Linked DNA regions of Homo sapiens: regions 2 and 3 are each linked to region 1. The links come from fine-mapping of genetic effects on gene expression. A gene starts in region 1. Each other region holds a variant in brackets. All regions are shown on one strand. Distances are from middle to middle.

Region 1 (2,500 bases):
CGATCACGTGGCGAAGCGGTGCTCCCCAGCGCCGTGGCTGCGCGCCCATTGGTCGGCGGCTGGAGTCCCGGGCGCGCCCATTGGCTGCGGGGGGCGTTCACGTGGCAGGGGGCCTGGGATGGACCCCGGGGTCCCGAGAGCTGGCAGGAAAGTTAAAGGGGGCAGCGCGGCCGCGGGGAGCTCGAGTCCCGGGTGACTGCTGGAGGGAGGAGGTGACCGCGCAGCTCTCGTGCACGGACGGACTTCGCCGCCCGCGGGGGGCGCGAACCCGAGCCCGGGCCCAGCTCCTGCCGTCACGGCAGCTGTCCCTGTTCCCCCAGGGCGTATGCTGCCGCGGGCTGGCGCGTCTGCCCTCGGGACTTATGAGCTGAACCCGGTACGTAGCTCCCCAAGTCTCGAGTCCGAGGGAAGGGCTGGGGACAACAAGGCGAGGGCGTGCAGCGGGGACCTCTTTGGGTTCCTGTCACCTACATTTTCACCGTGCGACTTGCACTGGCACACCGGGGCTGGAACACTCTAGGTAGCTGGCCCCAGGGAGCTGTTGCTTCAGCGTGGAGAGGGCGATCCAGGGACCGCAGCTGGGAAGCGCCTCCCGGGCCCACGTGCTCCACCGCGCTGCTGGGCCCGGCTGCGACCGTGACCCGGGAGCTGCGGCTGCGGCGGCTGATCCCTTTACCACCTGTTGTTCTGGCTTCGAAACTAGCACAAGTTCCCAGCCCCGGGTCCCGAGAGGTCTGGAGACTTCTCCAAAGTTGGGTAGTGGGGTTTGGAGCTTAAGGACAAGCCGCTTCGTCTCTCTCCGGGCCTTATTTTCCCTATAAAACGCGAGGAAATACACTTGGTAGGCTCTCAGGCCACCGAGGGCGACGGGACCTAGCACGATCCCCGTCCCGGGCTGGCGGAGGCCAGGCGGCCGCGCGGGGGTGCTGGTGTCGCGCTGCTTGCTCCGGCCGGGGTTGCCCCTTTGCCGGCCCCGCCCGGGTGCGATAACGGGCTCCTCCTCCTCGTCGTCTTCCTCCCACCGCCGACATCTCCGGGAACCCAGCCCAGGCCCTGCCTCCCGGACACACCGACGCTCACGTAGTCGCGCTTGCCACAACCCTGCGGGCTCTCCGATGCGGCGAGCGAGCTGGGGAGGGGGCTTCTCCGCGGCCCAAAAGGTGGGTGCGGCGCGAGGCCAAGGAGGCTTGTAGGGAGGTTGGGGGCGGAGTGCAGCCCTGGTCAAACTGGACGGAGGGGACAGAGTCGGAGAGTAACTTGTGGGATCCTCCAGCCTGGAGAGCACTGGCCTGCTCCTGCGTCTCTTTGGAATCCAGAAAAAGGGGTGTGGAAGGCACAGTAGCTGCAAAAGAGGGAGTGGGGGCCGGTAATGACTTACTGGAAGATTTGGGGCCTGTCAGAGCACTGTTTTCTGAAAAAGAGGAGAAAACAGAGGAAAGACTGGACTTGGGAACTTGGAGACTTGGAAGGTGTTGGAACCTGTGGTCTGAGTGGCGGGGGCCTGCCTGGGAGACCCAGGGTGCAGCAGAAGAGACAATTAGAGCTTTGGTCTGGGAGGAAGAGGAGGAGAGGAGGAAATGTTTCCTTGGGCAGAGTTGTCCAGGAGCCAAAACTAAAGTGAAGACAGCTGGAGGACTTACACAAAAGTACAGTTGAGGTATTTAGGAAAAAAAGTTAGTGGGAAGAGAAGCGGCACCAGGGGTGGGTCGCAACATACAATGTCAGGGCCAGCAGGGACCTTGGAGGGGACCTCAAGCCCAGAGCAGCTGAGTGACTCGCTCAAGTAGCAAAGCAAGGTGCGGGCATTCTTAGCCTAGTACTCTGTTTTCCCTCGTACGTTTTTAGACGGCAGGGGCTGTGTCATTTGAACTTGCCTCTTTCCTAGAATATGCAACTGTATTCACAAATGTCAGTCTCCAAGATGCTTTGGATGATGGGGACAGGATCAAGGGGTACAAGGAGCCTTTAAGGCTGTGAATAGGCCCCCATGGTCTGAGTACAAAGGGGAAAGACATGCACTCTCTTCATGCTGGATCAGTGAAACCTTTTGGAAGGGAACACAGAATTGTTGGAGGGAGGTAGATGGCCATGTCTTTAAAAATGAAAATTATAACCTGGTTGTGAATGTTTACTGAATGCAGTTCGGCAGCTTTCAGTGTTCCTGGTGGGTTGCTTGTGCATCTGATTTTTTTGTTTGTTTGGTTTTGTTTGTTTGTTTTGAGACGGAGTGTCGCTCTGTCGCCCAGGCTGGAGTGCAGTGGCGCCATCTCTGGCTCATTGTAAGCTCCGCCTCCCGGGTTCACGCCATTCTCCTGCCTCGGCCTCCTGAGTAGCTGGGACTACAGGCGCCCGCCACCACGCCCAGCTAATTTTTATTTGTATTTTTAGTAGAGACGGGGTTTCACCGTGTTAGCCAGGATGGTGTCGATCTCCTGACCTCGTGATCTGCCCGCCTCGGCCTCCCAAAGTGCTGGGATTACAGGCGTGAGCCACCACGCCC
Region 2 (2,847 bases), 68 kb after region 1:
GGCAGTATTGATTATGAGTTGATGATTGCTAAGGCTGGATACTGAGTACAAGGTGGTTCATCGCACTGTTCTCTCTTCTTTGGTATATGTTTAAATTTTTCCTTAATAAAGAGATAAAAGTTTATAAGGCATCGAAAGCAGAAAGAAAAAGAATGGAGATAAACATCAATTTTTGACCCCTAGATGGTATGCTTTCTCTTGTTACGGTATGCTTTCTTTAGGGGGCAGATACCATGTAATAAGAGATCTTTGGATGGAAGTTACCGTCAGAGCACAGCCATTGTTTTAGCAACATTCCAAAAGGAATAAAAGAAGTAATATTTTTCACTGAAAGTAGATCAAGATAAGGGATTATTGCCACAGTCATTGACTTTGCTTCCCCCTGACAAATGCACAGTGACCACTTGTTACATTCAATGGAGCGATAAAAGCTCTGTTTGGCTGGGCTTTTCTAGGGTTATCAGCAAATAAAAAATGCAGGGCCCCAGTTAAAATTAAATTTCAGATAAATAGCAAATACATTTTTTTAGTATACTTATGTCCCATGCAATATTGAGGAAATGCCTATGTTAAAAATTTATTTGTTGTTTACCTGAAGTTCACACTAAGGTAGATATTCCATATTTTATCTGGTAACCCTACTTTTATGACTTACAAAATTTAGGATATTCCATCATCCCCACTTTTCTCCAATGCATTCCATGTCTTAGTTCACCCTGAACTGACTAGACCGGACTCTTGCTATTATGACTCTTCGGGCATCTCATCATTCACTTTCTCTATGTTTCTAGAAAGACTTTCTCCTAGACGTTAGATAGGTTCAAGGGTGGACTTTCTGTCCGACCTTCTGGCCCCTGAAGGGAAATGGGGAAGGAGAGAATCCATTTGCCTAAGTGTTCCCAAGCAGGTGCCTACTTTCTAAGATGAGGAGCCCAGATGTAGGTCCTCATCCATTTCTTTCAATATCCTTTCAACACAGCAGAGATTAAGACCCCCAAGAAGTACAGATCATTCCTGCTGTTGCATCTTTTACACAGATATGGACTTCAAAGGAAACAAAGGAAGAATGATTTCATGCCAGAAAGCAGGAGATACCTTCTCATCCAGCTTAACTCTCATTTTGTGAATGTCATTTTCAGAATATTAACACCAGATGATCAGGTTTCCATGGCAGAGAAGCCCTTCTGTCTTTTCCTGCCTACTGGTGACTTGGCAACTCATTAGCATGTCTACTGGACGTGAGCCAGAGGAAGGAAGTGATAAAACACCATGAGTCAACATGTTACTTGCCAGAAGTTCTGGTAAAAGGAGTAAGAGGAAAACAAGAAAAACAAAGAAAACAAGAGTCTTAGGACATTGTGAGGGTCTCCATTCTCCTTCCCCTCTAAACCAGGCTCATAGTGGACCTCACCTGATGGAAGGTTCTAGAAAGAGACTAAACTTCACTTCCTGGAGTCGTAAGAAATATCTGCCATTCATGCTTTCCATTCTACTCTGAGGTTAAACAAATATTAAGAGTTCTAATGGGGTGGGGGGACACAGTGACTTTAAAAGTTGGCTGCAGGGTCCAGATGGACTAAGATGAAGGCAGAATTCTTCATACAGAGAGAACAACTTTTGCTCAGAAAAACAATATTAATGGGTTTATTTGGTCTTCCAGTGCAGGCTAATGAGAAGTCTAGACATAGAATAATTAAATTGCTT[A/G]TTTTTCATAAGAAATGGGAGTTGTGGGGGTTCCCTCTCTTGGCTTTGGAGCACCCCTCCCTTTGTCTCTGTACAGGGGAGCTTCTTTCTTTCTTCCCCCTTCTTTCTTGCCTATTAAACTCCCTGCTCCTTAAAACAAACAAACAAACAAACAAACAAAAACCAAAAAAAAACAAAAACAAAAGAAGAAGAAGAGGAAAGGAAGAAATGGGAGTTGTTTTAAGTGTTCCCTTTAGGTAGGGAAGACAAGAATTCTGAGAGCCATAGAAAGAAAGAGAGTGAAGAAATGGGTAGCAGAGGGGAAGAGGGATCCCAGGGAACATATCAGGGGAAGGATGGCCGGAGAGAAAATGGCTGAGCTGGCAATGCCTGAGGGATTCCAGCATCCACTTTAAAAAAATAATAATTTATTGTGGGAAATTTCAAGTATGTACAAAAGTAACCAGACTAGTATAAAGAACCTCAATGCACCCTTGGCAGCTTCAACAATTATTAATGCACAGCCAATCTTGTTTCATCTAAAATGCCCCACTCACTCACCTTTCTCCCATTAATTATCTTGAAAGAATCTCCAGTGATATTGTTTGGCTCTGTGTCCCCACCCAAATCTCATCACAAATTGTAATCCCCATGTGTCAACAGAGGGTCCTGGTGGGAGGTGATTGGATCACATGGGTGGTTTCCTTCAGGCTGTTCTCATGATAGTAAGTGGGTTCTCAAGAGATCTGATGGTCTTTATAAATGACAGTTGTCCCTGCTTTCTCTCTCACCTGCTGCCATGTAAGACGTGCCTTGCTTCCCCTTCACCTTCCACCATGATTGTTAAGTTTCCTGAGGCCTCCCCAGCCATGAGGAACTGTGAGTCAATTAAACCTTTTTTGTTTATAAATTACCCAGTCTCAAGTAGTATCCTTATAGCAGTGTGAGACTGGACTAATAAATCCAGATAGCATATTTTGTCAGTGAACATTTCAGTATAGCATTAAATCTTAAGTAGTAGCCAATTCTGGGCTGTGCTGTCTGCCCCATTCTTTGCACCGCTGCCCTCCACCCCCCATTTAGCTGATATCTGCACTAAATGCTTGTTCCTGCAGGAGCCGAGAGAGTGGTGCCTTGGGGGAGGGGCAAATGAAGAAGTGGCCA
Region 3 (2,847 bases), 74 kb after region 1:
CAGTCAGCTGGTCCTCCTCTGAGTCACAGTTTGTGCGGCTCCTGTGCACATAGGCACATGATAAATTTGTATGCCTTTTCTCCTGTTAACCTGTCTATTGTCAGTTTCTTCCAGGGACTCAAATTATTGAACCTTCAGAAGGTAAAAGGAAAGTTCCCTTTGCCTCTACATAGGTTTCATGAAACAGGTGGAATTTTTGGTGGGCCCTGAAGGTTTTCAACAGGCAGGGAATTAAGCAGGGAAGGAATGTGGCAGGGAAATGCATGTCACATTTAAGAACTGGAGAACATGAGAAAATTATTAATCTGATGATATGGCTGGAAAAGAAGTGTAAAACCACAGAAAGCTTTGAATACCAGGAAAAGGAGTTTCAGCATACTTCAGTAGGTAATGGGTAGCTAATAAACATTCTGACCAGCAGATAAGTAACACTGGCATGCGTATGAGGTACATTGGAAGGGGAAGAGCATGGAGGCAGCGAAAGCTGTGAAGTCCACATTCTTTAACAGCTATCTCTACCTCACCTTTGGTTTTATTCCCATGTCCTCACCTTCCACTGGTGTGGCCTTATAATAAATCTCTATCTTCTAAATCATCAACTCTGCCCCAGAGAGCTCCTTCAAAGGTGGGGCAGCTCTCCTGTGGTCCTAGCCCTGCCTTCTGCAGCACTGCAGGAGAACACACATCCCCGCTTCCCCCTAAAGATTCTTGGCAGCCCTCCTGTCCTCATTCAGATTTCTCTTCTTGTTAAATATGCCCAGTTTTTCAGCCATTTCTCACTGAAGTGGCTTTTCCACCATTCTAGTTACCCTTCTCTGGATATTATGTAGTTTCTCCCACAGAAAGAGAAGCACATGGTATTACCAAAGGCAATGGATAATTTAAAGAAACAAACTCTTGATGGGCCAATAAGAACTTAATCCCCCACCCACCTCTTTTCCTTACTGGGTAACTTTATTGGGAGTACTTGAGAGAAAGTCAAGTTCAAGGCCCAGATGAGTTCTCACTTGTCTATGGTATCATTTACATGTTGGCACCTTGGTCATATTTAAATCCTTCATCTCATTCTGACTTGGGTTTGCTTTGACTTACAGATGAACCCTAGATGTTGTATATCTTTCCTTTAGGGAATTTTATGGATGCCAGTCCTGTAATTTATACCCTCTCTTCTGTACCGTAGTTTTAGGGGACAAAACTGTGTATACATGGCTTGCTTGTATTTTTTCCTTCAGATTTTCTTTTTTCTGGCTGGGCACAGTGGCTCACACCTGTAATCCCAACACTTTGGGAGGCCGAGGTAGGAGGACCACTTGAGCCCAGGGGTTTGAGACCAGCT[T/G]GGGCAATAAGTGAGCCCTCGTCTCTACAAAACAACAACAGCAGCAAAAATTAGCTGGGCATGGAGGAATACACTCATAGTCCCAAGCTACTTGGGAGGCTGAGGCAGGAGGATCACTTGGACCCAGGAGATTGAGGCTGCAGTGAGCCATGATTGCATGATTGTGCCACTGCACTCCAGCCTGGGTGACACAATGAGACCCTGTCTCCAAAAAAAAGCCAAGTGCAGTGACTTACCCCTGTAATCGCAACACTTTGAGAGGCTGAGGCAGGAGGATGGCTTGAGCCCAAGAGTTCAAAACCAGCCTGGGCATATGGCAAGACCTTGTCTCTATAAAAAATAATAAATAAAAAATTTTTTAAGATTATTTTTCCCTTTCACTGTAATAGTAAACCTAATAGTTAACCTCTGGGTGATCATTACATTTTATTTCTTCAGTTCATGTTCATTTTCCCTGAGCCTGAAGGGTTAACCTGTCTGTGGTTGATGTGTGCACACCGTGGGGATTCTTTGTGGCTTTCCTAAGCCCCCTGTAAGTCTCTTTAGAAGCAACAACAACAACAAAATGCATGGCTAATAGATTTCCACTTCTAATAATAGGGTCAGTGCTATTCCATGTAAAGACCGTGTTCATAATGAAAATAAAGCATTGCAAAAAAAAAAAAGGCATGTTCAGCATGTGATATTAACCTAATGTTTACATGGAGGCTCTCAAAAGTGAATGTCTTTAGCTGTGTTCTTATTATTGTACACAAACTCCTCGGTAATCTCTCATCAGTCTCCAAACCCTGAAAATATTTCCCAATACATGTCTCCCTCATTTCCTCATAGTATATAACACATGTATCCAAGGAAAACTAAGGAGAGACTGGGTTTTCGCTTTGTGTGGGAACGCATTTCACCTTGCTTGCAAAACTGAAAGGTCTGTCTGGGCTCAGCTGATAAGATGTTTTGGTTTGATAAGACTTTTCTTCTGTGTTGCTTGGTGTGGAGACATAGTCAGATTCATTTAGAAAACATTTTTTATTGACTGTGACTCATTAGAAAGAATGTCATGTGCTGGCATTTCATCACCGAACAGGGAATCTTGGCCATATAGGGCCTTTGGCTCAGATACGATTCAGGAAAGGAATAATGGGCTTCCACGGGACCAGAGGAATGCAAGTAAACACGTGGTGCCCGGCGCTCTTCTGTGTCACCTCACTGTGGCGCTGGTGGGGGCAGGCTTGCTCTTGTGACACTGAAGATTAAGACCACACCAGACCACACCAGGAGATACTGCTTTTCCCTTAGAAGGACTCACAACCTAAGAGGACGATGTGCTCTATTAATTAAGGTTTTAGGAATTTAGAAATTTTTAAAAAGGAAATATGACAGGAAGTTCCCATATAAATGCAGGCACAATAAATATAAAGTACTGGCTGGGCGCAGTGGCTCACGCCTGTAACCCCAGCAACTTTGGAAGCCCAAGACGGGAGGATCACTTGAGTCCAGGAGTTTGAGACCAGCCT

Alleles and levels. Alleles are on the strand shown, and positions count from the first base shown. SD is a standard deviation of normalised expression in the study named. Not every link is listed here.
With allele G in place of A in region 2, the expression in thyroid of the gene that starts at base 1,065 in region 1 is higher (small effect, 0.24 SD a copy in GTEx).

What was found. PIP is the estimated chance that this variant, and not a neighbour inherited with it, causes the effect.
Region 2: its variant is the best candidate, but not a certain one, in a credible set for the expression of PPP1R3B in thyroid (GTEx, PIP 0.80).
Region 3: its variant is the best candidate, but not a certain one, in a credible set for the expression of PPP1R3B in whole blood (INTERVAL, PIP 0.66).

What each region holds. Positions count from the first base shown.
Region 1 is chr8:9,149,223-9,151,722 of GRCh38, reverse strand. PPP1R3B (protein phosphatase 1 regulatory subunit 3B) reads left to right here and starts at 1,065. Exons shown (of 2, transcript NM_024607.4): 1 at 1,065-1,160. RefSeq lists silencers at 61-310, 811-1,080 and enhancers at 431-670, 717-1,665.
Region 2 is chr8:9,080,721-9,083,567 of GRCh38, reverse strand. It overlaps a transcript of ERI1 not described here. Among named protein-coding and RNA genes, the nearest start is that of SNORD3I, 24 kb to the right of the region's middle. The variant A/G (reference allele first, on the strand shown) is at 1,705.
Region 3 is chr8:9,074,643-9,077,489 of GRCh38, reverse strand. It overlaps a transcript of ERI1 not described here. Among named protein-coding and RNA genes, the nearest start is that of SNORD3I, 17 kb to the right of the region's middle. The variant T/G (reference allele first, on the strand shown) is at 1,337.